Linked DNA regions of Homo sapiens: all the other regions are reported to be linked to region 1. Evidence: microRNA targets listed by miRTarBase, many of them from high-throughput screens and not tested one by one. Region 1 holds a microRNA gene; each other region holds the end of a gene's coding sequence.

What was found. The annotated mature microRNA hsa-miR-6732-5p reads UAGGGGGUGGCAGGCUGGCC and lies in region 1 at 2,205-2,224, opposite strand. An mRNA with a match to its seed (bases 2 to 7 or 8) in the 3' UTR can be bound and repressed. Matches are read on the target gene's strand: a 7mer-m8 pairs with bases 2 to 8, a 7mer-A1 pairs with bases 2 to 7 and ends in A, and an 8mer does both.
Region 2: miRTarBase lists GET3 as a target of hsa-miR-6732-5p. Seed matches in the 3' UTR shown: 7mer-m8 at 6,426-6,432 and 7mer-A1 at 6,310-6,316.
Region 3: miRTarBase lists SBK1 as a target of hsa-miR-6732-5p. Seed matches in the 3' UTR shown: 7mer-m8 at 1,971-1,977, 7mer-A1 at 2,353-2,359 and 7mer-m8 at 2,994-3,000.
Region 4: the mRNA of GZMM is a reported target of hsa-miR-6732-5p. Seed matches in the 3' UTR shown: 7mer-m8 at 6,606-6,612.

Annotation. Positions count from the first base shown.
Region 1 is chr1:37,474,762-37,482,458 of GRCh38, reverse strand. It overlaps MIR6732 (microRNA 6732), which reads right to left and starts at 2,229; the gene lies at 2,170-2,229. It overlaps ZC3H12A (zinc finger CCCH-type containing 12A), which reads right to left. Exons shown (of 6, transcript NM_025079.3): 2 at 6,520-7,000; 3 at 2,030-2,169; 4 at 624-858; 5 at 1-25. The coding sequence starts at 6,962. RefSeq lists enhancers at 1,881-2,707, 2,477-2,771, 2,545-3,084, 2,708-3,534, 4,925-5,224 and 1 more and a silencer at 7,685-7,697.
Region 2 is chr19:12,747,590-12,754,589 of GRCh38, reverse strand. It overlaps GET3 (guided entry of tail-anchored proteins factor 3, ATPase), which reads right to left. Exons shown (of 7, transcript NM_004317.4): 6 at 6,998-7,000; 7 at 6,267-6,617. The coding sequence ends at 6,486. BEST2 (bestrophin 2) reads right to left here and starts at 2,799. Exons shown (of 10, transcript NM_017682.3): 1 at 2,751-2,799; 2 at 1,846-2,048; 3 at 1,236-1,330; 4 at 1-38. The coding sequence starts at 1,997.
Region 3 is chr16:28,319,354-28,327,199 of GRCh38, forward strand. It overlaps SBK1 (SH3 domain binding kinase 1), which reads left to right. Exons shown (of 4, transcript NM_001024401.3): 4 at 723-4,496. The coding sequence ends at 1,568. Among named protein-coding and RNA genes, the nearest start is that of SBK1, 31 kb to the left of the region's middle.
Region 4 is chr19:548,576-556,421 of GRCh38, reverse strand. GZMM (granzyme M) reads right to left here. Exons shown (of 5, transcript NM_005317.4): 3 at 7,745-7,846; 4 at 7,237-7,500; 5 at 6,500-6,792. The coding sequence ends at 6,631. Among named protein-coding and RNA genes, the nearest start is that of GZMM, 8.4 kb to the right of the region's middle. RefSeq lists a cis regulatory region at 1-660.

The sequences.
Region 1 (7,697 bases):
CAGTGGGTCATCAGGGGGCATAAACCTGCAGAGGGTGCAAAGAACTCTCTGGAGGTGGGAGCCATGCAGGGACTTCTAATTGCTGAGAAGGGGCCGATGGCAAGCCTTGCTGGGAAGAATAGGAGAGTGACACCTAAAACTGGGGCCTGTCCAGGACCCCGCAAAACTGCTCTATGGGTGGGATCATACCAAGGGAGGAGAAAGGGATCCCCGGTCTAGAGGGCCACAGCCCATGGGCACCTTTAGGGGAACTCCCTCTCTGAGGTCGTCGGGGGATGGCAGCCCGCACCCACTGGCCCATGGCCTCTGCTCGAGAGATGCCATGTTGGTTCGTAGAGAGGCCACCTGGAACCATCAACCACATACATCCCCTCATAAGTGCTACGGCTCTATCTCCCAAATTAGCCACTCTCTCCACCCCACAGCCTGCCTGGTCCCGGTCTGATTTCTCCTATGTGGTGAGCTATCCGTCTCACTCTCAAAGCTGCCTGGAGCCAAGACCCGCAACCTCCCATGGCCACAGGGCCCCGCAGAGCCCAGCCCCCAGCTCCACCCTTGCCAAGGGCACCTCTGGCTTCCCCTGTGGACCCCAAGTCTGTCAGGGCCTCTGGGAGGGAACATACTTGTCATTGACGAAGGAGTACATGAGCAGCCGCTCCTCGATGAAGCGCTTCCACTCCTGCCGCTCGCCTTGGAGGTCACGGTATGTGTCGTTGGAAACCACGATCCCGTCAGACTCGTAGGCCAGCTTCACAATGAATCTGTCGTCATAGCACACCACCCGCTTGCCACCCACGCGTCGTGATGGTGTGAACACCAGGATCTTCTTCTTCTCCAGTTCCCGCAGGATGTGCTGGTCTGGGAGGTGACGGGTGCACACAGGTCAGGGCCCAGCGGGACCTAGAGCCAGGCCTACAGGGCTCCCTAACCTGCTGATGGCCACACACAGGAGTGGTTAACGCCAAGGTCACCGGGGCAAGAACTAACTCTGCTGAGGCCTCTTCCATGCCCCAGCCCCTCCCTTGGCGTGGCACAGTTTGCTGCCTGAAGACCAAGAACATCTGAACACAGGCGGCAGGGCCTGCATGGCAGAGGCTCCAAGCACAGAGCTGGCCTTGTTCCTTTTCTCCTTCTGGACATCAGGCCTGTTCAAGCCAGATGTGGTCTTGGCTTTGGCTTTCATCCAGCCTGTTCTGAGGGGTCCGTGAATGAGCCGCAGCTTGCTCTGGGGTGGGAGAAGTATCTTGGCTCTGTCCCTTGCATTGCCAGGACAAGGTCGCTAAATCCCATGGTGGGAAAAGGTCAGGCCACTCACCATGCCCCACCTGGGGAGCTGCTGGGACCACAGGGACACAGAAGTGTGCAAGTGGAAAGGGCCCCTCTTCCTGGAGCCTACAGTCCCAGACAGGCTGCCCCCAGATCTCAAGACTTCTAGAGAAACTGATTCAGTTTTTACCTCCAAAGGCTGGGGGCTCTTGCAAGAACAGTGGTAACAGCTAACATACACTGAGCATCTACCATGTGCCAGGTACTCTTCTCAGCACTTACCGTGTGTTAACTTATATGACCTCACGAGGAAGGCAATGCTGTCAACACCCCCTGCTGACACCGACCCCATGTTTCAGATGAGGAGCATGTGGCTCAGAGCAGGGCTAAGAGGGGTCCCTGTCCAGGCCAGGGCGCCAAGAGGGGACAGAGCCAGGATTCCAACTCTGGCTGTCTCGACTCAGAGCCCACAGGCTTAACCACTATGTGATACTGCGCTTCTGCCACTGGGGATGTTGAAAGAGCGACCTGCCCACCAGTAGGATGAGGGAGGGGCTCCAGATCTGAGGCAGAAGACTGGACAAGGTGACCTCCAATGACCACCATTCAGAGCAGGTTGCTAAGGACAGAAAAAACTGAGAAAAGAAATGCTGGTCCCTGCTTGAGTTCTAGAAGTTGTAGGTCACTCCCAGAGGGTCTCTCTTGGGGAGAACCAGGGCTGCTGGGGCAGTAAGACCATCCCACCTCCAGAGGCACCACTCACCTGTGATGGGCACGTCGGGCCGAGGCTGCTCCTTCCTCCAGGATGGCACAAACACTGTGATGTCTGTGTGGCCCCGCTCCAGAAACCAGTTCACTGCCAGCAGGATGCCCCGGCAGGAGAAGACCTCCTTGTTCCCATGGCTGGGAGGGAGAGGACAGGGTTAGCCCACACTGATGGCCAGCCTGCCACCCCCTAGGCCTGAGCAGGAGGAGGGAGGTGGTCACACCCCACCCCTGCCCTGGCTTTGGTGGTGGTAGTGAGCAGTCCCTTCCCCTTTGGAGTCACCAGCCCCTTCCCCTTTCCCCAGGGCTCAGGCCCTGGCCCTCTGCAGGTGGGGCCCAAGGCCAAGGCCTCCATTCCCAGTGCCAGTTCCCACAGCTCCAGGATGGCCAGGCCCCGCTGGGACTTTCCCTGAGGCTCCATCTCCTGAAAGTGAGGAAGCGCCCAGGAAGCTGGCAGCACTGCTCCCCACGGTGGGGGAGGGCCAGGCCACTTGCAACACACCTGGGGGTGGGGGAAAGGTGCCGCGAGACTTCTGGTTCCTGCCCCACCCGGCGAGCTGCCGGGACCACAGGGACAGATGTACACATGCACACTGAGTCACCACCCCTCCCTCGCCTCTTGCAGCGTGGGTGGGGGCGGGGGAAGCACCGGCTGGGCTGACCGAGGAGAAACCAGATTGTTCCGGATTAAAGTTCAGTCCTCACACACACCTCAGGGACTGGGGCCTGAGAAAGGCAAAGGGGAAGGGGCTGGCGACTCCAGCCTTCAGCATGGGACAGAAAGCGCCGGAGTGAAGCAAGTTCCCCAGGAGCCTTTCAGTCTGAAAGTGAAAGGATACTGCTTTTCCTCCCAAGATGGCAATTCCCCCAAATGCCTCTTCACCCCAAGGCAGAAAGACCATCAGGAAGATGCTAGGGGACTCTTAGCAAGGACAGCTGAGTAAGGCATGGGCCCTGCCTTGGTCTCAGACGAGGCCGCGCCCCACCCACAGGTGGCTGCACCCAGAAGGAAGCCTGGCAGGGCTCCTGGGCTGCCGCAGCTCTCCGTTCCTCTATCTGAAAATGGGCCCAGCAGTCTGCAGCTTCCTTAAGAGGGGTCAGTCAGTGGGACAGCTTTCCTGGTGGCTTCAGGCCAAAGATGGCCCTGCAAAGTAGGGGTTCCAACTGGATTTCCTGAGGGATGGGGGACTGGGGCTTGGGGCTCCCAGGTAACACTAGGTGTCATGGAAGAGCTCCTAGGACCAGCAGCCCCACGTCTCACTGCCCCCTCAGTGAACAGCTTAGACTCTCGTATTTGGCAAATAAAACAGAATAAATGTTACGCAAAAGAGGCAAGTCCAGGGCCAACCACATCCTGTGGGTGTCTTTAATGGGAGTGGGGGAGGTAAGGGGTGATAGCTGGAGCCCTAAGAGAAGCTAGGGAGGGAGGTGGGGCAGCTGGGGGCCATGGAGGCTATTTGGGGGCAAGACTGGGGCACCAGGGTCTGAAGGTCTCTAAATTGTAGGGGAGACAAAGTCCAGCCCAGGGCAGCACTCATCCTTCCCGGTCCCTCTGCCACATCTGCCAGCCTGCTTATAATAAAAGTTCCCATTTGCTGAGAGCTGTGAACCAGGCCCTGTTATAAGTGTCTAACACTGAATCATCAGCAAGCTTGTGAGGAGGGCACTATACCATCATCAACTCCTTCCCTGTTTTTCAGATGAAAACTGTGGTCCAGAGAAGGCAGCTTAGTCACCAGGGTCACACAGCAGTTAACGGTGGAAGAGAGACGCAAGCCCAGGGCCTATGCTTATCACTACCCTGTACGTCAATGCTCAGGCAGGTACGAAGGCAGGCACAGACCCTGATCGCAGGGAATGAGCAGGGATTCGCAGGCACTGAGCTCCCGCTGGTGGCCAGATATATGGCTTCATTCTTATAGGGCTTGCTACCGTGAAGGAAAGGAAGGTCACCTGGCTAGTGGTAAGAGACAGTCAGAACTCGAACCCAGGTCTGGGCCACTCGGTTGCCTTCCTGTCTCTAACAGAAGATCCAGAATTTATTTGGGAGAACAAAGCTCCCAAAATTGAGTTTGAACAAAGTGTGTTATGAGAGACAGGTGGCGAACGGGAGAAACAATGCTGCTGGCAAACTCCTGCTCTTCCTTCAGAACCCTTGTGAGATGTCACTGCCTCTGAGAAGCCTTCCCTGACCTGCCACAATAGGTCAGGTCCCTGGTCTGTGTCTTCACAATGCCCAGTGCTTCCCCCATCACATCACCCCCCTTCCTTGGGCCTTCTGGCCTGCCTCTCAAAACCATGGCAGCTGGGTCATCCCAGGCCTGGCTCCTTGTCTCAGGTATGCAGTGTGCGCATGTATCCGCCCACCTGCCTCCCTCCGGGCACATGATCCTAGGCTAGTATCTTGGAGCACTGGGAACTAATGGGATGCCAGGGCTCTCAGGGCAGTGCACTGCCTGTGGGCACTGAAAATCTTGGCTGGGACAAGTCGGTTCTCAGCAGCCCTAGCACCTGAATATTCCCTCAGCAGATGGAAAAACTGATCAGTGGGCGCTATCAGAGCCCTCCTCCTGGTAGAGCACATGAGGCCTGGAGTGCCCCCCTACAGCTAGCTTTAGTCTCTTTCACTGCACTGGAGGAAGCGCTGCTGGCACAGGAAAACCAGACATCCCTGCCCCCATTCCAGTTCTCTTTGCCTGTAAGGTCAGGGTCCCCCAGCCGGGCTAAGCAGACACTGATAGGATGTGTGTGTAGAAGACTCCAGCTAGGCTGCTCCTGCCCCAGGACAGAAGGCAGGGCTGGGCCAGCCTCCCCAGGTGAAAAGATATGCCTGGGCTGGGCCTGGCGAGTGGAAAAAAATTCCCTTAGAAGGAAACAGAGGTGAATTTCCCCATGATTTGCATATGATGGGGGGGCTAGCCCGCCTGCCCCTGGGGAGGGGGGGTGGCCGGGCAGGAACCGAGTAGCAGCTGAGACAGGAAGTTTGAGGCTGGAATTCCCCTCCTGCCACTACCCCAGCTCAGAAACCCCCGAGGTGGGTGCGTGGCTCTGCTTCTCAGGAGCAGGCTCCTCTGAGCACCCCTCATCACAGCCCCTCCTCCCATGTCCCTCCTCCTTCTGGATACAAACACATACTGCATATGGCTGCTCCCAGGGCTCAGCCGCTCCTGGCCCATACCTCCAGAGGAAGGAGTCACACAGATCCAACCTAGCTCCTAGCCCAGCTACATGAGGCTGGACACTGAGAGGGACCCCTTCTAATCTCGAAGCATGGGCTGTGACCTGCTGCCTCTTGGCATGGAAACTGGATTTTCTCAGCCTCCCATCCAGGCTCAGCCCAAGTCAGAGAGAGGAAGACTGGCCTGAAGGTGACAGAAGGAGGGAAGAGCACTCAGCTGCATGCCTGCTGAGCTGGGCCAGGGCCAGCTGGACAGTGAACTTGTCCCACAGGGGCCACAAATTAGGGAGGGCAGAGGCTGATGTCATGCCAGCCTTGGGCAGCCCACCTAGGAGCTCCCTCAGGGCAGCCAGAAAATCATCCCTTCTCAACCCTGTGTCTGGGGTCTCCCCGTCCATGCCAACAGGAACTTTTCCCTGTGAGCCATCCACCCAGCACTGACTCATCAGCCTGCCTTGGAGGGAACTGGGAAAAAAGTGGGGCCAGAGGGTGGAGCCTGGATTGACGGGAGAAGTCTGGGTTTCCCAAGGTCAGCAGCAGCCCTGGCTTCCCTCTCTGCCCCTACCTCCCCACCCCATTCCTGTGCTGGGGGATGGGGGTGGGAGTCACTGGGGGCTGAGTCCTGGCTCTGGCCCCGGGGAACCTCCAGAGACTGGTCCAGCCCAGGCTGCTTCAGCTGAGTCAGTAGGGATCCAAGTTGCAGCTCGCCTGAGGCCAGAGCATCAGGCCACCTGCCCACAACCCATGTAAAGCTGGACCCAGCCTTGAGGTCACTCTTGGACACAGTCACTGGACCTGTTTTCGTGGGAGCCCAGGTCTGAGACAAGAAGGCCTCAGAAGCCCAGCCCCTGAAATAACAACAACAACTGCTACTACCACTGCCTACTACCACTACTATGGTTCCTGAACGCTTGCTCCTCTCCGGGATCCGCACACTCCCTCCTCACAACACCCACCTGAGATCAGGTTCCGAGGGGTGAGTGAGCAGCTGCCCACGGGCTGGTCCCCTTTACAGCCCTGCCTCACATTACAGGAGAGGAGTGGAGACACAGTGCTGGCCTCAGGGAGGGACCCACAGCATAAGGTAAGCTCTGCGGACAGAGGGACCTGGGCTGGAACCCTGCCTCTGTCACTTACCAGTAGCGCGACCCTAGCCTCATAAAAGGCTTTCCCTCCCTCTAGACCAGTCCCTAAGAAGGAAGTCACTTCTTCCAGCCCACCAGAGCTGCAGAGACAGTCATCCTTCCATGTGTCCTGGCCACAGGAGAGATGCGAACCTCATGTGTCCTGGCCACAGAAGTGACACTTACCTCATGGCCACGTTGCTCCCATCGATGACCACTGGTCTCAGGTCGCTGCCCTCCTTTTCCTCTTCTGGGAGTGGAGGCTCCAGGTTGGGAGCCTTAGGGGTGCCACCACCCCGCGGGACTAGAGGGAGCTGAGGGCAGGGGTCCGGTGAGGTCTGGCGCTCCCGCTCGGTGGCTGTCCCGTGTTTCACCAGCTCACCCAGCACCGTGTTGGTGTCTGCCTGGACGCCCAGCTTCTGCAGGACGCTGTGGATCTCCGTGGATGAATAGCCCAGCTTCCGGAAGAAGTCCACCTTCATCTGCAGTTCCAGGGCCGAGGCCTCCTCAGCGGCCAGCTCTTGACCCGGCCTTGGGGTGCCCTGACGGCTGTGGCTGTCCTCAAATTCCCACAGACTCATGGTGGGGCTGGCTTCCAGGACAGGCTTCTCTCCACAGGGGCCACTCATAGCTCAGACTCCTGGAAGGCCCCGCGCCACAGCTCCTACTGAACAACCAACAGGGTTAGGGACGGTGAATAGCGCTCTCTCCTAACCTCCCTCCCAAAACCACATCCAGCAGGATGAGGGATTGGTGGCACTACACACTGCATCGTGTTATTAGTTCAGGTTGTCCTCTCAAAAGCTCTCCCAGCTAGGCATTCCCATTCCCATTCTATAAAGGGAGAAACTGAGGCACAGACATTAAAAACGTGCTCAAGGTCATCCAGCTGTTAGCTGGTGGCTCGAAGATCGGAACTTAGTCTGAACTAAGACTGGAACTACCCCAGCTGTAAAGCCTCGAACCCCCACGCCAACCCAGGGGACCCAGAAGGCAGGGACGGGGCTCTCAGATGGAATCCTGGGGCTGGAAGTGCGTTGCGGGGCCCAAGGCTTCCCCACTGAGGCCACCACTTTCGCCCACCCGTCCGGCACTCAGAGCTCAGGCCCAGGCAGCGCAAGGCCCATGGCCGGACTCCCGGAGCCGGGGAGGGCAAGTTTCTGGGGTGACCCGTGGGGAGAAAAGTTGCTGGAAAACTTTGGTTGGCTGCCGGGAGCTGGTGACGCCGAGGCTGTCCCGGCCCGAGACCCGCGCTTGCTCGGCCCGCGATCCCGATCAGGAACCTGGTGCTCTTCCCCGGCTCTCCCAACTTGGGCAAAGTTGGAGGGGTCCTGAGGCCCGGCGGGCCGGGGAACAGGACCCCG
Region 2 (7,000 bases), not on the chromosome of region 1:
GCTCCACCAGCGGTTCACCACCAGCGTCACATAAAAGCCTGCAGGGGAGCGGGGAATGGGGGCTCAGTGGGGACACCAGGGCCAGGGGTTTGGGGGCCCAGGTTGTGGGAGAGGGGGCAACGTAAGGTCTGCATCAGGGAAACCCGAGCGTGCTGGCCAACCTGACCACGTTTGGGCTGGGAACTTGGGGGTCCAGCCCTGAGGTCAGAAAGGACAGTTGCCGGGCGCGGTGGCTCACGCCTGTAATCCCAGCTCCTTGGGAGGCTGAGGAGGGTGGATCATGAGGTCAGGAGTTTGAGACCAGCCTGACCAGCATGGTGAAACTCCGTCTCTACTAAAAATACAAAAATTAGCCGGGCATGGTGGCGCACCTGTAGTCTCAGCTATTCAGGAGGCTGAGGCAGAAGAATCACTTGAACCCGGGAGGCGGAGGTTGCAGTGAGCTGAGATCGCACCATTGCACTCCAGCTTGGGCAACAGAGCGAGACTCCATCTCAAAAAAAAAAAAAAAAAAAAAAAAAAAAAAAGGCAGAGCAGCCCTTTGGGTCACTGGCTACTTGGGAGTCACCTCAGATGTGACATTGGGATCCCAGTATGGGGATAGAGGCACAGAGCCCATGTTAGGGGCACGTGGGCAGACTGTTGCTTGCTGTGAAGGCATAGGGACCTAAAACAAGGGGAGAGGGGCCTGGTTTGTGGGGGTGTACATCAGAGACATCTGGTCAGGCTTGTCACAGTAGCCACACCCGGCCCCTGAGCCAGGAACTTCTGAAGGGGTTGGGGACAGGGTCTACATCAGGGAGCCTTGGGCAGGCTAGGGTCACTTGTGGTCACTAGGGGTCCAAGACTTGTCAGAGAAATGCCCCCAGGCTGGAATTGAGAGGATGGAGTCCTATGGGGTCCCTGGAGGGTTAGGGGTTTGTCCCCCCTAATAACACAACAGACACTGGTGAGAATCCCCAGGGTGACCAGGAATAAGTCCTGTGTGTGAGATGGAGCTCTCCTGGGGGCACCTCAGGGGGCACTGTGACCCCAGGTGACACCCCAGGTCTCAGAGTGTAGAGCCACATCTGGCATCTTCATGATATGGATCCAAAAATGGGTGGGCAGTGCTGTCGGGGTTGGATTTGAGGGGGGGGATCTCAGAGGGGCAGGAATGGGGGCTCCTCAAAAGGCATGAATGGATATGGGTTTCTCAGGGACATGGGAACGGGGGACTTGGGGTTGGACCGCACCAAGCACGAAGGAGACAGGGATGAGGCTGGCATACTGGTCACAATAAATCACAAGCTTCTCGAAGTAGCGCTTCTGCCCTTCGGTCAGCACAAAGCTGCGGGATAGAGATGAGGGGTCACAGGTCACAAGGGTGACTCCATCCCCAGCTTCAGATCTCTCTTGCTGTGCCCCTCACCCTGGCTTCTTTTATAATAGCTGCCCCCAGCCGGGTGCTATGGGTCACACCTGTAATCCCAGCACTTTGGGAGGCCGAGGCAGGAGGATCACTTGAGGTCAGAAGTTTGAGACCAGCCTGGTCAACACGGTGAAACCCCATCTCTACTAAAAATACAAAAAAATTAGCCAGGCATGGTGGCTGGCACCCATAATCCCAGCTACTCGGGAGGCTGAGGCAGGAGAATCGCTTGAACCCGGGAGGCAGAGGTGGAAGTAAGAGAAGATTATGCCACTGCACTCCAGCCTGGGTGACAGAGTGAGACTCCATCTCAGTTTAAAAAACATAGATATATATACTTATATATCTCTATATTTTTATAATTTTTATATATTATATATATATAATAGCTGCCCCCCCTCCGCTAGAACATGAGCACCTCAGGGCAGCCTCACCGGTAGGCAGCACTCAGCGCCATGTAGAACCCAAGGAAGCAGAGCAGCTCTCGCCACAGGAGTTTGTAGATGCTCCCACGCCACAGTAGCAGCAGCTGGGAGAAGCCACCGAAGCGGGCGTTCGCCACTCGGGCTGTGTAGGTGACGGTCATCGTGGCACCCGGCAGGTGTGGCCAAGGGAGAGTGGGTGGCCCGGGTGGGGGCTGCGGGTGTGGGTGGAGAGGTGCGGGGATAACTGAGCACAGGGATTCCACCCATGTTCCGGCCCGCCACCCCTTCAGTCCTGACCCTTGCCTGAGTTGCCTTCTCCTCCCAGCTTTACTCAGTCTAGTCCAGCCCCCAGTGCCCCTCCCTGACCTTCATCTCAGGCTGTCCCCTTCCCTGGACTCCTGGCCGTGGGCTCTGGTAACTGCCGTCCCCCACCACCAAGACCCTTGAGTCCCTGCAGTCAGCTCCCGAGTCACCCTCTGCCCGATCCCCTTCACCCAGAGGCCACCTGTAGCATGCCCCATTCCGCAAGTCCCCAGCACCTGAGTTTCTAGGTTCTCAAGGCTCCACCTCTCCCAAATTCTCTCCCTCAGCCCCTATTTCTGGCTCCCCCTTCTCCACTTCCCCAGCTCCCAGTCTTGACCCATTCTGCTCCCTGCACTCCCTCTGAAGCCCTGTCCCTAAGCCTCCAGGTCCCCTAGCCCCCCTGCCCCAGCCTGTGCACCTTCTGCTTAATTGCCCTGGCTCCCCCCACTCCCTTTTCCTCCCGGATCCGCCTTGACCTTTCCTCTCTCCGTTCCCCTCCAGCCTTCCAAGCCCTCCACTCCCCGCCCCGGGAGGACTCCGGATGCATTCCTGCCCGCAGGTTCCCTCTTCCCTCAGGGCCCCCTATTTCCCCAAGCCTGGGCTCATCTCACCTGTGTTGAAGGTGGCCGGTGCAAGGACCCACAGGGACAGGGATGGAATGGGCGGGTGGCTTTGGCGTTGGGTGGGGCTGGGGAGTGGGCGTGCCTCCCTTTCCTGGTCCTCCTCCCTCGGCTAGGCTGTAGCTTCAGAATTTTGTTTGGAGTCCCACAAGTTTGTTACCTGGTACGGGGGGAGAAATCCGCCTTGTCCTCCCTCGCCCCTCCCTGTTCCCCTCCCAGTCGCTCACTGGCAGGTCCTAGGGATCTGGAACCCAGAGGTTGGGGGAGGAGGCAGGGATGGTCTTTTTCCCAGTCCCAGAAACACACACACTGCTCAGTGAGGCTGGGTCACTTCACAGTCACCTGTAATCACACAGTGTCACAGAGATGCACGCAGAAACACACATCATAGTCCCAGAAGCAAATCTAGCTGCTCTTAAGACAGCCTCAGCCAGGCACGATGGCTCACACTTGTAATTTTAGCACTTTGGGAGGCTTAGGTGGGAGGATCACTTGAGCCAGGAGTTCGAGACCAGCCTGGGCAACATAGGGAGATCCCCATCTCTATTGAAAAAACAAAAAGACAGCCTCACATAACTATGGTTACCCAGAGGAGCAGTACACACTGTCACAGAACCTTCCAGGGTCACACAAGACACACCTACCTCGACCCCTCCTGCCTCCATCACGCATATATAAGGCAGGTGGACCCTGACATACTAGGCTCTCCTCTTTCATACACACGGCTCTCCCAACGGTCTGAATTCCGTCATGATCACGCCATGTAACAAAGACACCCACACAACCAGCCAAGTGCCAGACCCCACCCAGACCTCAGAATGCCTTCACACACACAGTCATACTCCACTGCAAGGAGGTTTTACTCCCGATCTTCCCTGTGCAAAGATGCAGCCATGATCACACACCAAATGCAAAAACCCTTTCCTCAGTGCGGTGGCACACAATCCCAGGCTCAGAGCGGGGCCTGAGGTTCACCAATCTTGCAAAGACACACACAACAGCCACCCCTCCCTCAAGGGTCCCCTAGCTATCACCGCTGGTGAAATTCACCAGCATTTGTACACCAATATGTGAAGGCAACCCCCTTTCCAACGCTCCCTCCCGGCGGCAGGCCCACACCCACACCCACAGGTCTCAGATACTCTCAGCATTGCCATGAACACACAAGCTTGGGGACACAAAACCTTGTCCTGCATTTGGCATGGATTCTGGGCAGATGTTCATTCTTCACAGACACACCTCTAAAGGGGACACTCCCAGCCTGGTACAAACAGTACCCACTCCCCCTCCATTGCCCAGCCTGAAGAACATTAACACACAGATTGGTGTGGGAGGGGCAGAAGTTCAGGGGTCAAACCCTGGGATGGGCATCCTAGAGTGCTCAGGAGCCCCTCGTGCATTCTACATAGCCCCGCCCGAGGTTCCAAGCCCAGCAGGCTGGGACGCCGTGTTCCCAGACTGGCAGATGTTCACCCTGCCCGGAGTAATTAGGAACCCGCCTGGGCTGGTCACCCTGTGACCCATGCCTTCGCTGTCCAGCTGCCGGACAGCCCATAAATGGGGGCGAGGGGGCAGCTGGGGCGGTGCCGTCAGCTGCGGAACCTGGCAAGGCGGTGGCAGGCTCGGTGCTGATGAGCTCAGTTCTCGATCAGCAGCCCTCACTCCCTAGGAAGTGTCCTTGCATTCACTGAAGCCCGCTCCTCCTTTTCATCCTCCCTACCCCAGCTCACCCGCATCCCCACACACTTCCGACTGCTGAATTCCCGCAGGGGCTGGGGGCAGGCTTCCTGGGCTATTTGATATGCTTACTAATTGTGACAACGAAAAATAACAAACATTTCTTGCGGTTTCCTGTCTGGTGCTGGTATAAACGCCTTGCGTGTTTCATCTCATGGAATCCTTACGGGCATGCTAAGTTGGTCATCTTACTATCTAAGTAGGGAAACTGAGGCTCCGATGTCACATCTCATCTTGTTCGTAGCACAGCTGGGATTTGGATCCTGGCAGTTTGGCGCGGAGCCGGCTGTACCATCGTGTTTGTTTACACATGCCACCCCAACAGGCCCACACCTGCTTGTGCACACCCCAGGGAGTTGGAGTGACAAGTCTAGGCTCCTGGTGGGGTTCCCCTTACACACACACCCTGGCACACCCAGACTCTGGGTCTGAACACTTTTTTTTTGAGACGGAGTCTCACTTTATTGCCCAGGCTGGAGTGCAATGGCGCAATCTCGGCTCAGTGCAACCTCTGCCTCCCAGGTTCAAGTGATTCTCCTGCCTCAGCCTCGCAAGTAGCTGGGATTATAGGTGGGCACCACCACGCCTGACTAATTTTTGTCTTTTTAGTAGAGAGTAGTTGGAGGCTGGCCTCCAACTCCTGACCTCGTGATCCACCTGCCTCGGCCTCCCAAAGTGCTGGGATTACACGCGTGAGCCACCATGACTGGACCTGAACACCACTTTTGTTTTTTGAGACAGGGTCTTACCCTGTCTTGGCTCACTGCAACCTCTGCCTCCGGGGTTCAAGCGATTCTCCCACCTAAGCCTCTGGAGCAGCTGGGACTACAAGCACCCCAACACCATGCCCGACTAATTTTTGTATTTTAAGTAGAGACGAGGTTTCGCCATGTTGGCCAGGCTGGTCTTGAACTCCTGGCCTCAAGTGATCCACCCACCTCGGCCTCCCAAAGTGCTGGGATTACAGGTGTGAGCCACCGCGCCCGGCCTGAACACCGACTCACGTGTGTCCTCAGGAACCCCCTTTCTGTCCCCCCTAGCCAGCTCTGGCTTGGAACTTGTAAACTCTCAAGGTCATACCCCATCCTGAGTCTCCCAAGTGGGGACAACAATAGCAGCCCAGGCAGTGGCAGAGGGAGGAGCGAAGGGCAGGGGATAAGGGGGTCCACTAGGTGCCTTCCAGGCCTGTGTGCCCACAGCCTGAGACCGCTCTGGAGTCAGGATGAGACTTCAGGAGCCCCTCCAGCCGGAGTCCTCTGTCACCCTGCCCACTAACCAGCCCCCTTGCTGCAGCCCTTTGCTGGGAGGGGCTGATGCCATCCCATGGGGGCAGGAATTGGGGGGTGGAGACTGTTAATCCCCAGTCTGGCAGGCCTGGCCTCTCCCCAGGGCGCCCACTAATTCCCAAACCAAACAGCAGGCAGTGCCGGGCCCACTGCCGGCCTAATCTGCTCTGCTCCCCACCAGCCTGGGGCTGGCCAAGGGGCCTCCCAGTTCCCACGCTCTGAGCCTCCAAGGAAGTGGGAAAATGCCTCTGTCTTCCATTCCAGGCTTCACAGGCCCAACAGGGACACCTTAACCCACACAGAATGAGACAAAGGTATCTCTCACCCAAGACACCCTCCTTCCAAAGTTGCCACAATAAACATGCATCTCTATTAGGTCTCTGTTGTGAATGGGCCCCTCTAGATGTGACACTTCTGTCCAGTGCACAACCTGTGCAACTGTACATAAAGGTGCTTACCCTCACCTCCCAATGTCAACAATACAGCAGTTTAAGATCATTTTATTGAAGAGCAAGAGGTGGGAGAGGTAGGGGGCAACTACAGCTCCCCACCAGCCCCACCAGGGGGAATGGACCCCTCCCTGCCTCCTGCCCAAGTGGCTCCCCCTGTATTATGGGGGGGACTTTGTGCAAACTCTGCCCCGAGGGGGTGGGGAGGGTGGAGGGTGAGTGTGAAATGGCAGCGGTTGGGGCTGGCAGCTGTGCTACTGGGCACTGGGGGGCTTGTAGGGCTCCAGGAGGAGGGCCGAGAAGGTGTTGACCTTGTCTGCCCCCCGCACCTCATGGGGTAACAGCGGCAGCTTCACGATGTGGAAGTCTTCATACAGGTCCTCCATCTGCAGCCAGGGCAGAGGGTAGAAGGCAGTGGTCAGGGGGCAGGAAGGCAGAGACAGAGTGTGGATCAATAGAAGCGGTAAAGCTAGAAAGCTTCCAGAGTCAGGGAGAGAATATAGGGCAGGAGCTTAAGGTGTCATAAGTGGGAGCTGCATCACTATGGTCAGAGATCACTGGGCTAGACCCCCTGCTCTCCAGGGTCACAGGGACCTAGGCCAGGCCAGCCACAGTCCTCTATGGCCGGAATAAGGGTGAAGGATCTGAAATGTGGGGGCAAAGGGCAGGAGGCTAGAGGGCAGAGGGCCAGATGGTGGAGCAAAAGATCAGAGAATAAAGGGGCAGAGGTGCCTCTGCTGAGCCAGTGCTGGGTGGGTGGGCACACCTG
Region 3 (7,846 bases), not on the chromosome of region 1:
ACAAAAGTCCCTGTTCTAGTGGGAAACTGACACTCCACAGCGGGCCAGATAATAACAGATGGAGATGAGTGCCTAAAAGGAGACAGTGAGAATGATGGGATGAAGTCACTGGGCCCTCCCCTGGGGCTACACAAGAGGAGAGGTGTCAGATCCACCTGGGAAGGGGCCCTCAGAGGAAGCGACCCTGGAACCGGGACGGTGGGGGAGGGTTCCAGGCACTAGCTTTAAATCTGCTCTGCCACTTGCTGGCTGAGTGATGAGACCTTCGGAGCAGGTCCTCCTTCTTTGCTGAGCACCTACTACATGCCAGAATCTGGAGACACAGATGCACGGACACAGCAGGGAACAGGACGGGAAGCTCAGGGAGCCCCGTTCTAGTTGGGGAAGACCGACGAGATAAGTATCTAGCAGGCAGGGCAAAATGACAGCAGGTGGAGGGCGCCGCGGACCCCCTCATCAACCTCCTGGAGAGCCGCGTGTCCCTCCTGGAGCCCCGATGTCCCCATAGGAGAAGCAGGCATGGTAGCCACTATGAGGATTGGATGAGACAGCGGGGGAAAGGGCGCTCAGCAGCATCCGGGCCGCGTCTGCGCGGTCGCCCCAGTTACTGGGGACAGGGTGGGAGGCGAAAACCGCCTTGCTAGAGAGGGAGCTGGAGGGGAGGGCGGCGGGGCGGGCGCTGGAGAGCTGGAAACAGCGCGGCTTCCCCCGGCCGCCCGCAGGTGGGGCTCCCTGAGGACACGGTGAAGCGCTGTGTGCAGCAGCTGGGCCTGGCGCTGGACTTCATGCACGGGCGGCAGCTGGTGCACCGCGACATCAAGCCCGAGAACGTGCTGCTGTTCGACCGCGAGTGCCGCCGCGTAAAGCTGGCCGACTTCGGCATGACGCGCCGCGTGGGCTGCCGCGTCAAGCGCGTGAGCGGCACCATCCCTTACACGGCGCCTGAGGTGTGCCAGGCGGGCCGCGCCGACGGGCTGGCGGTGGACACGGGCGTGGACGTGTGGGCCTTCGGCGTGCTCATCTTCTGCGTGCTCACCGGCAACTTCCCGTGGGAGGCGGCGTCGGGCGCCGACGCCTTCTTCGAGGAGTTCGTGCGCTGGCAGCGGGGCCGCCTGCCGGGGCTGCCTTCGCAGTGGCGCCGCTTCACCGAGCCCGCGCTGCGCATGTTCCAGCGCTTACTGGCCCTGGAGCCCGAGCGCCGCGGCCCAGCCAAGGAGGTGTTCCGCTTCCTCAAGCACGAGCTCACGTCCGAGCTGCGCCGCCGGCCCTCGCACCGCGCGCGCAAGCCCCCCGGGGACCGCCCGCCCGCCGCCGGGCCACTGCGCCTCGAGGCGCCTGGGCCGCTCAAGCGGACGGTGCTGACCGAGAGCGGCAGCGGCTCCCGGCCCGCGCCCCCCGCCGTCGGGTCGGTGCCCTTGCCCGTGCCGGTGCCGGTGCCAGTGCCCGTGCCGGTGCCTGTGCCCGAGCCCGGCCTAGCTCCCCAGGGGCCCCCCGGCCGGACCGACGGCCGCGCGGACAAGAGCAAAGGGCAGGTGGTGCTGGCCACGGCCATCGAGATCTGCGTCTGAGTCGCCTCCGCCGCCCTCGGACCCGGGAGCAGCCCGGGCCCGCCCCGAGCCGGTGCCCGGTGCGGCGGTAGGGAATGGAGCCACCTCGCCGCGGGGCAGGGGGCGCAGCGGTAGACTAGGCAGGACGCGGCCCGGCACCTGGTCCGTCCCCGGCGGGCTGGTGAGGGGGCCACCAAAGACCCCTAGCGCGGCCTGGTGAGCGGGGGCTTGGCCCAGAGGAGCCAAGCCGCACAGACCCGAGAATTCGGAGGCCACCACACAACACACACACACACACACACACACACACACACACACACACACACACACACACACACGCCAGGAGCAAGGGAGCTTTCGGGCCACACTCCCAGACGCCTCCCTGAGCCCTGGAACCCGGACTCGTTGCTCCTGGCCTTCCATACCCCCTGGCAGATCATCCTGCGGTCCCACCCCAGATCCCCTCCTCCTCGCCATCCCATTCTGCCCCCTCCCCACCCTGGGTACAGAAAGGGACTGAAGTGTTGGGCAGAGAGGGGGCTTAAGGCCCCTGGGCACAGGCTGGGATCAGGGCAGTGAGCGAAGGGCAGCTGTGTCCTGCCCTCCCTTCTGGAGGCTGGAGGGGAGAGGCCAAGCCCTTGGAAAATGTAGCAAATGTCTGGATGTCGCATAAGTGCGTGTATGTGCGGGACAGGCCCCGAGAAGCTAGTGACTCCTGCACACCCCCATTGCACAAATGAAATCACAGCCCAGGAGGGAGGGTAGCTTGGCACTGGCTGAGAAATAGAGCTCTCTCCCCGCCCCTCCCCCTAACCACAAGGGATTGTCCTGACAACTTGTGGGGATAGAAGGGCTCACAGGGCAGGGGTCTCAGCTGCCCCCATCCTTAGGGCAGGGGAGTTAGTGTGGAGCCGAGAGCAGGTCCCAGCTCCCCCTGCCAGCCGCACTGTCCCAGGCCCAGGGACCTCTGCCGGGTCCTCCCAGCCCTTGCCACACAGCCTAGACGTAGTAGCCTGGGCTTCCAGCAGGTGGCGAGCTGGTTCGTGCTGGAAATTTCTCCTGGGTTTCTTGGGGTCAAACATGCCAACCTCCAAGACCCCATCCTCACGTCTCCCACTTTTCTGGCGCTGGAGTGTGCAGGGCGTAGGACCTGCATGTGTGGGTGTGAGAATGGGGGCGGTGGACACCAGGGGGCGAGTGTGTGACTAGGTGTGTGTGCACATGTGTAGGGTGCAGACGCATGGGTGCCATCCTTTGCGTTCAGTGACTGTGCGTCCAGACCCCTCACCAGCGGCCCCCCCACCACACCCTGGTCCTCCCAGGCAGCTGTCCCAGGGCGCCCAGGCCTGCCTTGCACCACAGCCCTCAGGAAATCCGGCAAGGAGGCCCCTGCAGGTTGGTTCAGGCCCCCAGGTAGCAAAACAGAGACAACAGCAGCCCCGCCTGACCCCCTGCCCCTCTCTGTGGAGGCCCGGGACCCCCGCAATAAGCACCACATGGGTGAGGCTGTCCCTGTCAGGGTCCCCTGCCAGGGTCCCTCCTGGGGTTCTGGGCCATTTGAGGGGCTCTTTGATGGGCCAGGCCGGCCAGAGTGAACTCCGAGCACTTTCTGGCTGGTGCCCCAACCTCTCCACTCCCCACTCATTCCCACCTTGAAAAAGGGCTATAGGTCCCCTGCCCTGCCCGGGTCCAGTTTACAAACAGTGTGGGGTGGCCCCAGGGCCTGGCCCCACTCTCCCTGCTGTGCCCACTCCTCTCCAGACTCCACCTCCCCAGTGGGTATGGGCCCTCCACATGCCAGGTAAGTAGCAAACCCCCACTCCCTCCAAGGACCAGGTCTCAGAGAAGGCCCTGGTCACTGCCCCCGGCCCACCTGGAGCCCATCGGGGCTGCCTCTCCCAGCCGCGACTTCTCCTTTTGCCTTAGGCCTCGCGACATCCTGATCTCTCCTGCAATAACTAGGAATCGAGATTCCACAGTAGACGTCCCTTGCCGTGCTCGCTCTCTCTCTCGCGCGCGCTCTCTCTCTCCCTCTCTCTCTCTCTCTCTCTCTCTCTCTCTCTCTCTCTCTCTCTCTCTCCTCTCTTTCTCTCTCTCCCTCTCTCTGTTAAGATCCTGTTCGGGAGTTTCCCCAGCCGTTGTAGTATCTAGTATGTTAGAGTTGGGAGGGGACCATAGTTATGTAGCCCAGCCCCCTCATTCCCAGAGGCACCCAGAGGGCCAGCCTCCAGCCTGACCCCAGAGCAGAACCGGAACACCAGGTTGGGGCCCTGGTGCTGCCACCTCCTCTGCTGGTCGGGCTGGGACCCTTTGCCCCTTAGGAGAGGTGTTGGTCACAGATGTTTACCTCAGTTTATGTCACTGTCGAAGAAACAAAAAATAATAGCAAAAAATAACACTGTAGACATGAAGACTTAGAAGACAAAAAAAAAAAAATCACACAAAAAATCTCCCTTGTTGCGATTCTTCTGTGAAGGTACAGTGTGTATGTGTGTATGTGTGTATGTGTGTGCGTGTCTCTGTCCCAGACCCTGTGTCCCCCACACTGCCCCCTGTCCTTCGGTGCTTCCCAGAGACCCCTCTGAGCTGGCCTGTGGGGCACGGGAAGCCCCCTGGATGGGAGGCGGGGCCACAGGTCGGCTAGAGGGTCTCCACCAGGCCCACTGAACAGAACCCCACGGCTGCCAGAATGTTCCCTGAGCCCACACTGTGGCCAGTGGGACAGTCCTGGTGGCTGACATCAGCGTCCATGCTTGGCTCAGGGCCTGGGGCGGGGTCCTGGGTAGAGTCCTAGCCCCAGAGCCCCAGCCCCTCATGTCTTGCCGCCCTTCCTCCATGTGTTTGTAAATACTCTGGCATCCTTTGGCCCTGAGAAGGTTTTTAAATGTGTTATTTACTTCTCTAAACATGACGATTGCTATAAAAATAAACAAAAGTTTAGAAAAATGACCACTGGGTGGCTGTCTTTTCTCAAGTTTGGGGTGGAGAGGGCGGTGGGGGTGGGGGCACACAGGTACTCTAGAAACTGAAAACTTGGGCTGGGCGGAGCGGCTCACATCTATAATCCCAGCACTTTGGGAGGCCGAGGCGGGCGGATCACCTGAGGTCAGGAGTTCAAGACTAGCCTGGCCAACATGGTGAAACCCCCATCTCTACTAAAAATATAAAATTAGCTGGGCGCGATGGCGCACGCCTGTACTCCCAGCTACTTGGGAGGCTGAGGCAGAAGAATCGCTTGAACCCGGTAGGTGGAGGTTGTAGTGAGCTGAGATCGCGCCATTGTACTCCAGCCTGGACAACAAGAGCAAAGTTCCATCTCAAAAAAAAAAAGAAAACTTGACCTTGACATAGGCTCTAGGCCTCCTGTGACCTCTCAGAACTTGAGCATGAGGGGAACAGGACCCAGATTCTGGGACAAGGGGTAGGCAGTTGTCCCTTGCCTGGAGTTCAGCTTGTAGCCCTTCAGCCTGGCCAGAAAAGAAGCAAAAGCCCAGAGGCAGACCAGTTCACCACTCAGCACCTTTTTACTGAGCACCTTTTGTGTACCAGGATTCCTCCTAGGGGCTGGGGACACAGCACTGAGCAGGACAGACAGGGCCCCTGCCCTTAGGCAGCTGGTGATCTAATGATGAAGGCAGACATTGCCCAAACAGCAGGCTGAGCTCAGTGAGAGCATGGAACTGGGAGACCCATCGAGTTTGGAGGAGCCCACAGACGCTCCCTGACGATGGGGCCAGAGCAGGGGACAGGAGAAAGCTGAAAGGGCCGGTTGTGGGTGTAGACTCCAGCAACAGTCAAGGCGGATGTTCTGAAGGAGGGGGAGCTTCAGTGGACTGTAGGGAGTTTCATGATTCAACACTCATTCAAACAAATATTTGCTAATTACCTACTCATGTCAACAGAGCAGTTCTGTTGGCTCTGCCTTCAAATACAGGCACATCCCAAGGCAGCAACTGCCCATTGCCTGCATTGCTGCCCCTGGACATGGCCTCCCTCCCTGGCCTAAGGCAGGAGCCTCTTCTGAGCCTCTGCAGGTTCTTCTTTTTTTTTTTTTTTCCCAAGAGTTGGGGTCTCGCTCTGTTGGCCAGGCTGGAGTACAATGACATAATCATAGCTTACTTGCAGCCTCGATCTCCTGGGCTCAAACAGTCCTCCCACCTCAGCTTCCCAAGTAGCTAGGACTACAGGCACATGCCATTGCTCTGGGCTATTTTATTTTTATTGTTACTTTTTGTAGAGACAGGGTCTCACTATGTTGCCCAGGCTGATCTCCAACTCCTGGACTCAAGTGATCCTCCTGCTTTGGCCTCCCAAAGTGCTAGAACTACAGGTATGAGCCACTATGCCCGGCCAGACAGATCCTTTTGATAAGATCTGTCACTATGTTCAGAACCCTACAATGGCTTCCTATTCCACCCAAAAATCAAAGCTGAAGTCCTTAGAGTGGTCTCCAAGGTCCCACGAGCTCTGAGAGGTCACAAGAGGCCTAGAGCCTATGTCAAGGTCAAGTTTCAAGCCCAGCACATTCCAGCCTCATCCCTACCATCCCCTGTACTGCCTGCCAAGCATGTGCTCACCTGGAAGCCTTAAACTTTGCCTTGTACTCTCCCAGGGATCCCTCCCGCCCTTCCTTCAGGGTCAGAGCAAACTTCCTGAGCCGTCTAGGTGGAGAGAAGCCCTCCTTAGCCTGCTTCACTGCACACTGAGCACTCGTCACCACCTGCAGGACCATGTATTTGTTTGTTACCCATCTCTCCCCCCTAGAATGGAAGTTCCATAAGAGCAGAGGCAGTGTTTGGCAAACTGCTACTTCCCTCCAGCCCCCACGCCTGGGACAGGGCCTGGTACGGTGATGGGAACTCCGTAACAACTTGTCAGACTAATGAATGCATGCCTGCTACTATTTTCGGGGCCAAGGAAACAGCAATAAACAAGACACACAATCCCTATCACATACCCTGAGACATACTCTTTTTTTCCTTTTTTCTTTTTCTTTCTTTTCTTTTTTTCTTTTTTTTTTTTTTTTTTGAGATGGAGTCTTGCTCTGTTGCCCAGGATAGAGTACAGTGGCGCAATCTTGGCTTACTGCAACCTCCAACCTCCTCCACCTCCCAGGTTCAAGCAATTCTCCTGCCTCAACCTCCTGAGTAGCTGGGATTACAGGCACATGCCACAATGCCCGGCTAATTTTTTTGTATTTTTAGTAAAGATGAGGTTTCACCATGTTGGCCAGGCTGGTCTTGAACTCCTGACCTCAAGTGATCCACCCGCCTCAGCCTCCCAAAGTGCTGGGATTACAGGCTTGAACCACCGTGCCCAGTCTTTTTTTTTTTTGAGATGGAGTCTCACTCTGTCACCCGGGCTGGAGTGCAGTGGTGCGATCTCGGCTCACTGCAACCTCCGCCTCCGGGTTCAAACCATTCTCCTGCCTCAGCCTCCCGAGTAGCTGGGATTACAGGCACCTCTACTAAACCCTATCTCTACTAAAAATACAAAAATTAGCCAGGCATGGTGGCATGAGCCTGTAGTCCCAGATACTCAGGAGGCTGAGACAGAAGAATTGCTTGAACCCAAGGAGGCAGAGGTTGCGGTGAGCCAAGATCGTGCCATTGCACTCCGGCCTAGGCTACAAGAGCGAAACTCCATCTCAGAAAAAAAGAAAGAAAAAGAAAGAAATACAGTGTGCAATAAATGTAACGTGCTTGAATCATCCTGAAACCATCCCTCCATCCCCATCTTCGCTTCACCCCACCCCACCCCACCCCTGGTCCGTGAAAAAATGGTCTTCCACAAAACCAGTCCCTGGTGCCAAAAAGCATGGTGACTGCTGTTCTAAAGAGCAAAACAGACATTCTATAAGTTACATAATTATATATGAAATGATGGGGTGGGGGCAGAAAGAAAAAGAGAGGGAGGGCAAAAAGAACAGCAAAAAGCCCTACCGGGGCAGAAAGGACTGCTACCCAACTATTTGATTTGGTATATGTTAAAGAAAAGCTCTGTCATTTCAAAATGTCTGCCGCTTCTCTGCCATGATAAGGGTGTCATCCACTTTAATGGATTGTTAGGGGATAGAGGAGAAATCTACAAAGCAAAAGAGCATCACTGGTTCCCCAGCTTGGTGGACAAACATCACCTCTTCAGATCCCCCACTTAGCCACAGAGTGGCGGGACTTGCCACTAGGGGGCCCAGGCTTTCGGCAGCCATGGCTTCTGTCTCCGCCATTCACTCATGTCACTGCTGAATTCACTTGGGCAATATCAGGCATCCTCCAGGCTACAAAGCTTTTGCCCTGCCG
Region 4 (7,846 bases), not on the chromosome of region 1:
CCTCAGGAGGCTGAGGGAAGGGGATTGCTTGAGCCCAGCAGTTTGAGGCTGCAGTGAGCTAGGATTGCACCACTGCGCTGCAGCCTGGGTGACCCTGTCTCAAAAAAAAAAAACCACGAAAACACAGACGGAGGGGTGGAGGCTTCCAGGGCACTGCGTGTCCCACACAGGGTGTCAGCCTCCTGCTGGTGGCTGGTTCTGTGTCTCTAAGTCCCCAGTCACTCACCGGGGCTGGGGTGGGGACATCTCAGCACAGCAGGAGGGAACCACTGATGAGGCACGTCCGGGCTCAGAGATTAGCTCTCTCCCCGGGGCGTGGCTCCAGCTCACCAAACACCAGCCTGGCCTGGCCTCCACTGATCTCTGTCCAGTTGGAGTCACCCCAGGACCCAGTGGGTGGGGTGGGTGGGGTGGGGCGGTGCCCTGTGACCTCTGGAGGAGGCTGGAGAGGAAGCTCAACCCTTGCCTCTGAGCATTTTTTTGTTTGTTTTTTTGAGATGGAGTTTTTTGCTCTTGTCGCCCAGGCTGGAGTGCAGTGGCGCAATCTTGGCTCACTGCAACCTCCGCCTCCCGGGTTCAAGCGATTCTCCTGCCTCAGCCTCCCCAGTAGCTGGGATTACAGGCATGCGCCACCACGCCCGGCTAACATTGTATTTTTAGTAGAGACGGGGTTTCTCTGTGTTGGCCAGGCTGATCTGGAACTCCCGACCTCAGGTGATCCGCCCGCCTCGGCCTCCCAAAATGCTGGGATGACAGGTGTGAGCCACCATGCACGGCCGCCTCTGAGCATTTCTGACGGGTCCACCCCACTGGGCTGGATGCTTCCTCCTTCCTAGCCTCCCTGCCTCTACATCAGGGTCTCCCTTGAGGATGTCAAGGAATAAGGAAAATCGCAGCTTCCGCTGGGTACGGTGGCTTACACCTGTCATCCCAGCACTTTGGGAGGCCGAAGCGGGTGGATCACCTGAGGTCAGGAGTTCGAGACCAGCCTGACCAACATGGTGAAACCCCATCTCTACTGAAAATACAAAAATTAGCCGGGCGTGGTGGTGGGTGCCTGTAATCTCACCTACTCGGGAGGCTGAGGCAGGAGAATCACTTGAACCCGGGAGGAGGAGGTTGCAGTGAGCCGAGATTGCGCCACTGCACTCCAGCCTGGAAACAGAGACTCCGTCTCAAAAAAAAAAGCAAACAACAACAACAAAAAAAAAAAAAACAAAAAAAAAAACACCACAGCTTCTTTTAAGCACGTGCAGGGGCCGTGTGACTGTGGGACGTGACAAGGAGCTTCTGTCCAAGTTTCCGTGCGGGAAAGAAACACAAACGTCTGCGAAGTTCACAGCAGCCCAGGTCACGGCAGCCAAAGGTGGAAACAGCTCACCCATCCCTCGAGGGCAGTGAGTGGACAGAGGCAACGTGGTCCAGCCGTACCACGGAAGGACACCCCACCCCAAAATAACAGCACCAGGACGTGCCACCCCAAAGTGTACTTGTCCTGCGTCGTTCGAGCTGGTGACTCCCAGAAACCGCAGGCTCAGGACTAGCTCTGGACAAGTGCTCTTTTGTAAAATAAGTTCACGTCCACGAAGGACATCCACGCTGGCAACACACCTGCACCAGGAAGAGGGAGAGGGCTGCCCCGGGCAGCTTTCATTGCCAAGAGGCCTGGCTTTCTTTTTATCTTTTCTTTATTTGTTTTTATTTTTAATTTTAATTTTTTTGTATTTTTAGTAGAGACGGGGTTTCACCATGTTGGCCAGGCTGGTCTCGAACTCCTGGGCTCAAGTGATCTACCAGCCTTGGCCTCCAAAAGTGCTGGGATTACAGGCGTGAGCCACCGTGCCTGGCCTTTTTATCCTTTTTTTTTTTTAAAAAAAAATGAACACATGCCGGGCGCGGTGGCTCACGCCTGTAATCCCAGCACCTTGGGAGGCTGAGGCGGGCGGATCACGACATCAGGAGCTTGAGACCAGCGTGGCCAACATGGCGAAACCCCGTCTCTACTAAAAATACAAACAGTAGCCGGGCGTGGTGGCGGGTGCCTGTAATCCCAGCTACTCGGGAGGCTGAGGCAGGGGAATCGCTTGAATCTGGGAGGCGGAGGTTGCGGTGAGCCGAGATCGTGCCACTGCACTCCAACCTGGGCAACAAGAGCAAAATACTCTGTCTCAAAAAAAAAAAGAACACATAATAATTGTACATATTCATGGGGTACATAGTGACGTTTCAATACATACAATGTGTGCTGATCAGACATTAACATAGCTAGAGTTGCAAACATTTATCATTTTTTAAAAAATTTTTTATTTATGGTTTTTTTGTTTTTTTTTTTCTGAGACGGAGTCTCGCTCTTGTCGCCCAGGCTAGAGTGCAGTGGTGTGATCTCAGCTCCCTGCAACCTCCCTTTCCCGGCTTGAAGTGATTCTCCTGCCTCAGCCTCCCAAGTAGCTGGGATTATAGGTGCCCACCACCATGCCCAGCTAATTTTTTTTGTAATTTTCGTAGAGACAGGGTTTCACCATGTTGGCCAGGCCGATCTTGAACTCCTGACCTCGTGATCCGCCCGCCTCAGCCTCCCGATGTGCTGGGATTACCGGCGCGAGCCACCATGCCTGGCCATGAATGAACAATTTAAAAACCCAAAGGGGCTGGGCGTGGTGCCTCACCCCTGTCATCCCAGTACTTTGGGAGACCAAGGCTGGCGGATCATGAGGTCAGGAGTTCAAGACCAGCCTGGCCAATCTGGTGAAACCCCGTCTCTACTAAAAATACAAAAATTAGCCGGGCGTGGTGGCGCGTGCCTATAGTCCCAGCTACTCGGGAGGTTGAGGCAGGAGGATTGCTTGAACCCAGGAGGCGGAGGTTGCAGTGAGCCGAGATTGCACCACTGCACTCCAGCCTGGGCGACAGAGCGAGACTCCGTGTCAAAACAAAAACAAAAACAAAAAACAAAAAAAGAACCCAAACAGGCAGGGCCCATCTCTGGGGTTAGAGACTGGACTTGGGGCGGGGCGCAGTGGCTCATGCCTGTAATCCCAGCACTTTGGGAGGCCGAGGTGGGTGGATCACGAGGTCAGGAGATCGAGACCATCCTGGCTAACACCGTGAAACCCCGTCTCTACTAAAAATATTTAAAAAATTAGCCAGGCGTGGTGGCGGGCGCCTGTAGTCCCAGCTACTGGGGAGGCTGAGGCAGGAGAATGGCGTGAACCCAGGAGGTGGAGCTTGCAGTGAGCCGAGATTGCACCACTGCACTCCAGCCTGGGGGACAGAGCGAGACTCGAATCTCAAAAAAAAAAAAAAGAGACTGGACTTGGGTACTTGGCTAAGGAGGGGCTTCGGGGCAGGGGGTTGTGTCTGGACCCAGGTGCCGGGAACAGGGGCGTGCCTGGTTTGTGAGTTATGAGGCTCTTCACTTGTGACCTGAGAACCTTCCACTGCCAATGATGCCATAAAAAGTTAAAGATTAGGCCGGGCGCGGTGGCTCACACCTGTAATCCTTTAGGAGGCTGAGGTGGGAGGATTGCTGGAGCCCAGGAGTCTCTAAAAAAATAACATAAAAAAATTAAAAAAGTTAAAGATTAAAAATGCACTTGCCTCTCCCAAAAACACTGTGACTCCAGTCCAATCGAGAGAAAAACATGAGATAGCTGGCGGGTGCAGTGGTCCACACCCGTAATCTACATAAATCCCGTCCAGCCGGCCTCCAGACACGGAGTTCTGAGAAACGGTCGGAGCCTGGGGGTGCCGAGGAGAGGCTGCGGCGAAACGGCAGGTTCGGTCCCGGGTGGGACCCTGTGCAGGAAGAGACATTAGGGGAAACTGAGGAAATCCGAGCCAAGAGTAGGTCCTTAGTAGTTAATCACGCATTCATGTGAGTTCGTCAGCCGTGACTCCTGCTGACTGGAGAGGGGAGCGGCCAGGAGCCTGGGGGCGGGGACGCGGGGGACCCTGTGGATACAGCCGCCACACATCTCCTGCAGACCAAAAATGGTTTTAAAAATTAAGTCTATTACAACACTAACCCGGCCGGGCACAGTGGCTCATACCTGTAATCCCAGCACTTTGGGAAGCCGAGGCGGGTGGATTATTTGAGGTCAGGAGTTCGAGACCAGCCTGACCAATATGGTGAAACCCCGTCTCTAGTAAAAATCCAAAAAAATTAGCTGGGCTTGGTGGTGGACCCCTATGATTCCAGCTACTTGGGAGGCTGAGGCTGCACTCCAGCCTGGGCAACAGAGTGGGAACTGTCTAAAAATAAAATAAAATAATAAAAAACCATTAACGTGGGCACAGTGGCTCATGCCTGTAATCCCAGCACTTTGGGAGGGCGAGGTGGGCGGGTCACCTGAGGTCAGGAGTTCAAGACCAGCCTGGTCAACGTGGTGAAACCTGTGTTTCTATTAGTCTCTACTAAAAATACAAAAAAAGTTAGCTGGGCGTGGTGGTGCACGTCTGTGATCCCTCAGCTACTCAGGTGGCTGAGACACAAGCATCGCTTGAACCTGAGATGGCTTGCAGTGAGCCGAGATCGTGCCACTGCACTCCAGCCCGGGTGACGCACTGAGACTCCATCAGAAGAAAAGAAAGGAAAATAAAAGAAAAAAAGAAAAGAAAAGAAAGAAAGAAAGAAAGAAAGAGAGGAGGGGAGGAGAGGGGAGGGGAGGAGAGGGGAGGGGAGGGGAAGGGGAGACGGGGAAGAAAGGAAAGAAAGGAAAGAAAGAAAGAGAGAGGAGGGGAGGGGAGGGGAGAGAAGGGGAAGGGAGGGAAAGAGAAGAAGGGGAAGGGAGGGAAAGAGAAGAAGGGGAAGAAAGGGAAGAAAGAAAAGAAAAGAAAGAAAGAGTTGGTAGTGAAATTAAAAGATTCTGCAGGAAAACAGCGCGGCGCTGAAACAGAGTCACTGAACAGCCCGAGATGCCACTCCCACGGGTCTAATCTGGAGGGAGGAAGGAGCAGGTAGGTCCACACGAAAACGCACACAGGCGGCTCCCAGCAAAGCTTCAGACGGACGGACGCAGACGAAGCCGCCCAGATGTGCACCCAGGGACGCACCCACAAACGCAGCGAGGCCCCCCTCGAGCTGGAGCTCGACCCCCCGGAGCAGGAGCACGGCTCGGACCCAGCCAGCGCGCGGGTGCAGCTTGAGGACGTCACGCTCAGCGGGAGACGCCAGACACAGAAGGCCACGCAGCGTGATCCCCTGTCCATGAAATGTCAGCACAGGCCCATCCAGAGACAGGGAGGGGATGTGAGGGCACCGGGGCTGGGGTGGGGACGGGGAGTGACGGCCGATGGGGACGAGCCTCCTTTTGGGGTGCTGGGGTGACAGTGGGGACAGAGTCTATTTTCGGGGTGCTGGAATGACAATGGGGGTGGGGCTTCCTTTTGGGGTGCTGGGGTGATAGAGATGGGGCCTGTTTTCGGGCTGCTGGGGTGACAGTGGGGACAGGCCTGTTTTCGGGCTGCTGGGATGACAGTGGGGACGGGCCTGTTTTCGGGGTGCTGGGGTGACAGTGGGGACAGGGCTGTTTTCGGGGTGCTGGGGTGACAGTGGGGACAGGCCTGTTTTCGGGGTGCTGGGGTGACAGGGGGACAGGCCTGTTTTCGGGGTGCTGGGGTGACAGGCCTGTTTTCGGGGTGCTGGGGTGACAGTGGGGACGGGCCTGTTTTCGGGGTGCTGGGGTGACAGTGGGGACAGGCCTGTTTTCGGGGTGCTGGGGTGACAGTGGGGACAGGGCTGTTTTCGGGGTGCTGGGGTGACAGGACTGTTTTCAGGGTGCTGGGGTGACAGGGGACAGGCCTGTTTTCGGGGTGCTGGGGTGACTGGGGACGGGCCTGTTTTCGGGGTGCTGGGGTGACTGGGGACGGGCCTGTTTTCGGGGTGCTGGGGTGACTGGGGACGGGCCTGTTTTCGGGGTGCTGGGGTGACTGGGGACGGGCCTGTTTTCGGGGTGCTGGGGTGACATGTCACGGTGGTGGTTGCCCAGCTCTGTGCAGGTACCAAAGGCCCCTGAATCGCAGTTTACAGGGAGACTCATCTGCTATGTGAGTTGTAACTTGATAAAAGCTGTTACTAAAAAAGAAGATCCTGGGATGCTGTTCAAGGCCCAGCCCCAGGAGCCACGCGGGGAGGACGGCCGCCCACCCCTGCCAGCCTGCAGACCCGGCCACCGCTCCAGTCCTGGCCAACGCCGCCCCCTCCTGGGAGAAGCCTTGGGATCCACAACCTCCCTTTTTAAAACAGGGAAGGGCCGGGCGCGGTGGCTCACGCCTGTAATCCCAGCACTTTGGGAGGCCGAGGTGGGCAGATCACAAGGTCAAGAGTTGGAGACCAGCCTGACAAACATGGAGAAACCCCTTCTCTACTAAAAATACCAAAAGTTAGCCTGGCGTGGTGGCGGGCGCCTGTAGACCCAGTTACTCGGGAGGCTGAGGGAAACAGGTTTGTCGGAAGCCCCACAGCCAGCATGGACAGAGGTGGGCTGGGACTCAGGCGGGCTCTGAGCGTTTCTTCATTATGATTTATTGGTCCCTCCCTGTCCCTCCCACCCGTCCTCACCCACCCCACTGCACCCCTGGAGGGGAAGGGTCCTGTGGAGACAGCGAGGGGGTCCCCATCACCCCAGGGCATCAGGCCGATCGGCCGGTGACCTTCCTGATCCAGGACACGTAAGGCGCCACAGCGGTGGCCACGGGAGGCTTGAAGATGTCAGTGCAGACCCTGGAGCTGAAGGACAGGACTCTGGCCAACACCCGGCCTTTGCCACACACCAGGGGCCCGCCCGAGTCACCCTGCAGGGACGACACACCGCAGCTCAGCCTCTGCACCTGCTGAGGGGACGAGGGGAGCAGGGCCCGCCGAGGGGAGCAGGGCCAGGCCTGTTATCCCCAGGCTCAAGGAGACACAGGGGCTGCTCCCGGCCCACGCGTGTCCCCTCCCCATCTCCCGCTGGCCCTGTGAACCCTGCTCCTTCTTCCCCCGCCGGACCGTCTTGGCTGGAGCAGAAGTCACAGCTCTGCCGCTTCCCGGCTGTGTGGTCTTGCGCAGGTTGCTAAACCTGTCTGAGCCTCAGTTTCTGCACCTGAGAAACGGGACCCCTGCCAGTGCTTCCCCGCCCCCCAGCCCCTGACAGGACTCCCCAGAGAACGGGAGAGCCAGGAACCTGCCCGGCGGCTGCCCTGGCCCCGGCCCTCCCGCCAGCCTCATTCCCCCAGCCCCACCCGGGCGCCCCTCACCTTGCAGGGAGCCTGGTCCTTGGAGTCGGCCGCCAGGCAGACCATGCTGGGGGAGAGGCTGCCGTTCCAGAAGCGGCTGTTGTTACACATGCGGGTGTCCAGCACTTGGAGGTCCAGCTCCCGCAGCACCCGGGACAGGCGCCCGCCCTGGTGGGTCAGCCCCCAGCCGGCCATGCTGCACCGAGTCCCTGCTGCCACCACCTGGCGCTTACTGGGCAGGGCCAACGGCCGGATGGTCCGGCTGGGCTTCACTTTCCCGTCCAGCTACGAGTGACAGGAAGGGGCAGGTGAGCAGGGGGAGGGGGTGAGAGTGCGGGGGCGGGGGGCGGCAGCGGGGGGAGGGGTGGCAGTGGGGGGAGGGTGGGCAATGGGGGAGGGGGCAGTAGTGCGGGGGGAGGGGCAGCAGTGCGGGGGGAGGGTCGGCAGCGGGGGGAGGGCGCAGTGGGGGTGAGGGGCACCCGTGGGGGACAGGAGGGTGCCCAGTTCTCCCTGTCCCGTCCCTGCACACCTGAAGCAGCGCGAGGTCGTTCTCCAGGGCAGGGACGGGCTTGTAGCGAGGGTGCTGGATGGCTGCCTTGATGTGGAAGGTGAGACCGGGGCTGTCCAGGGT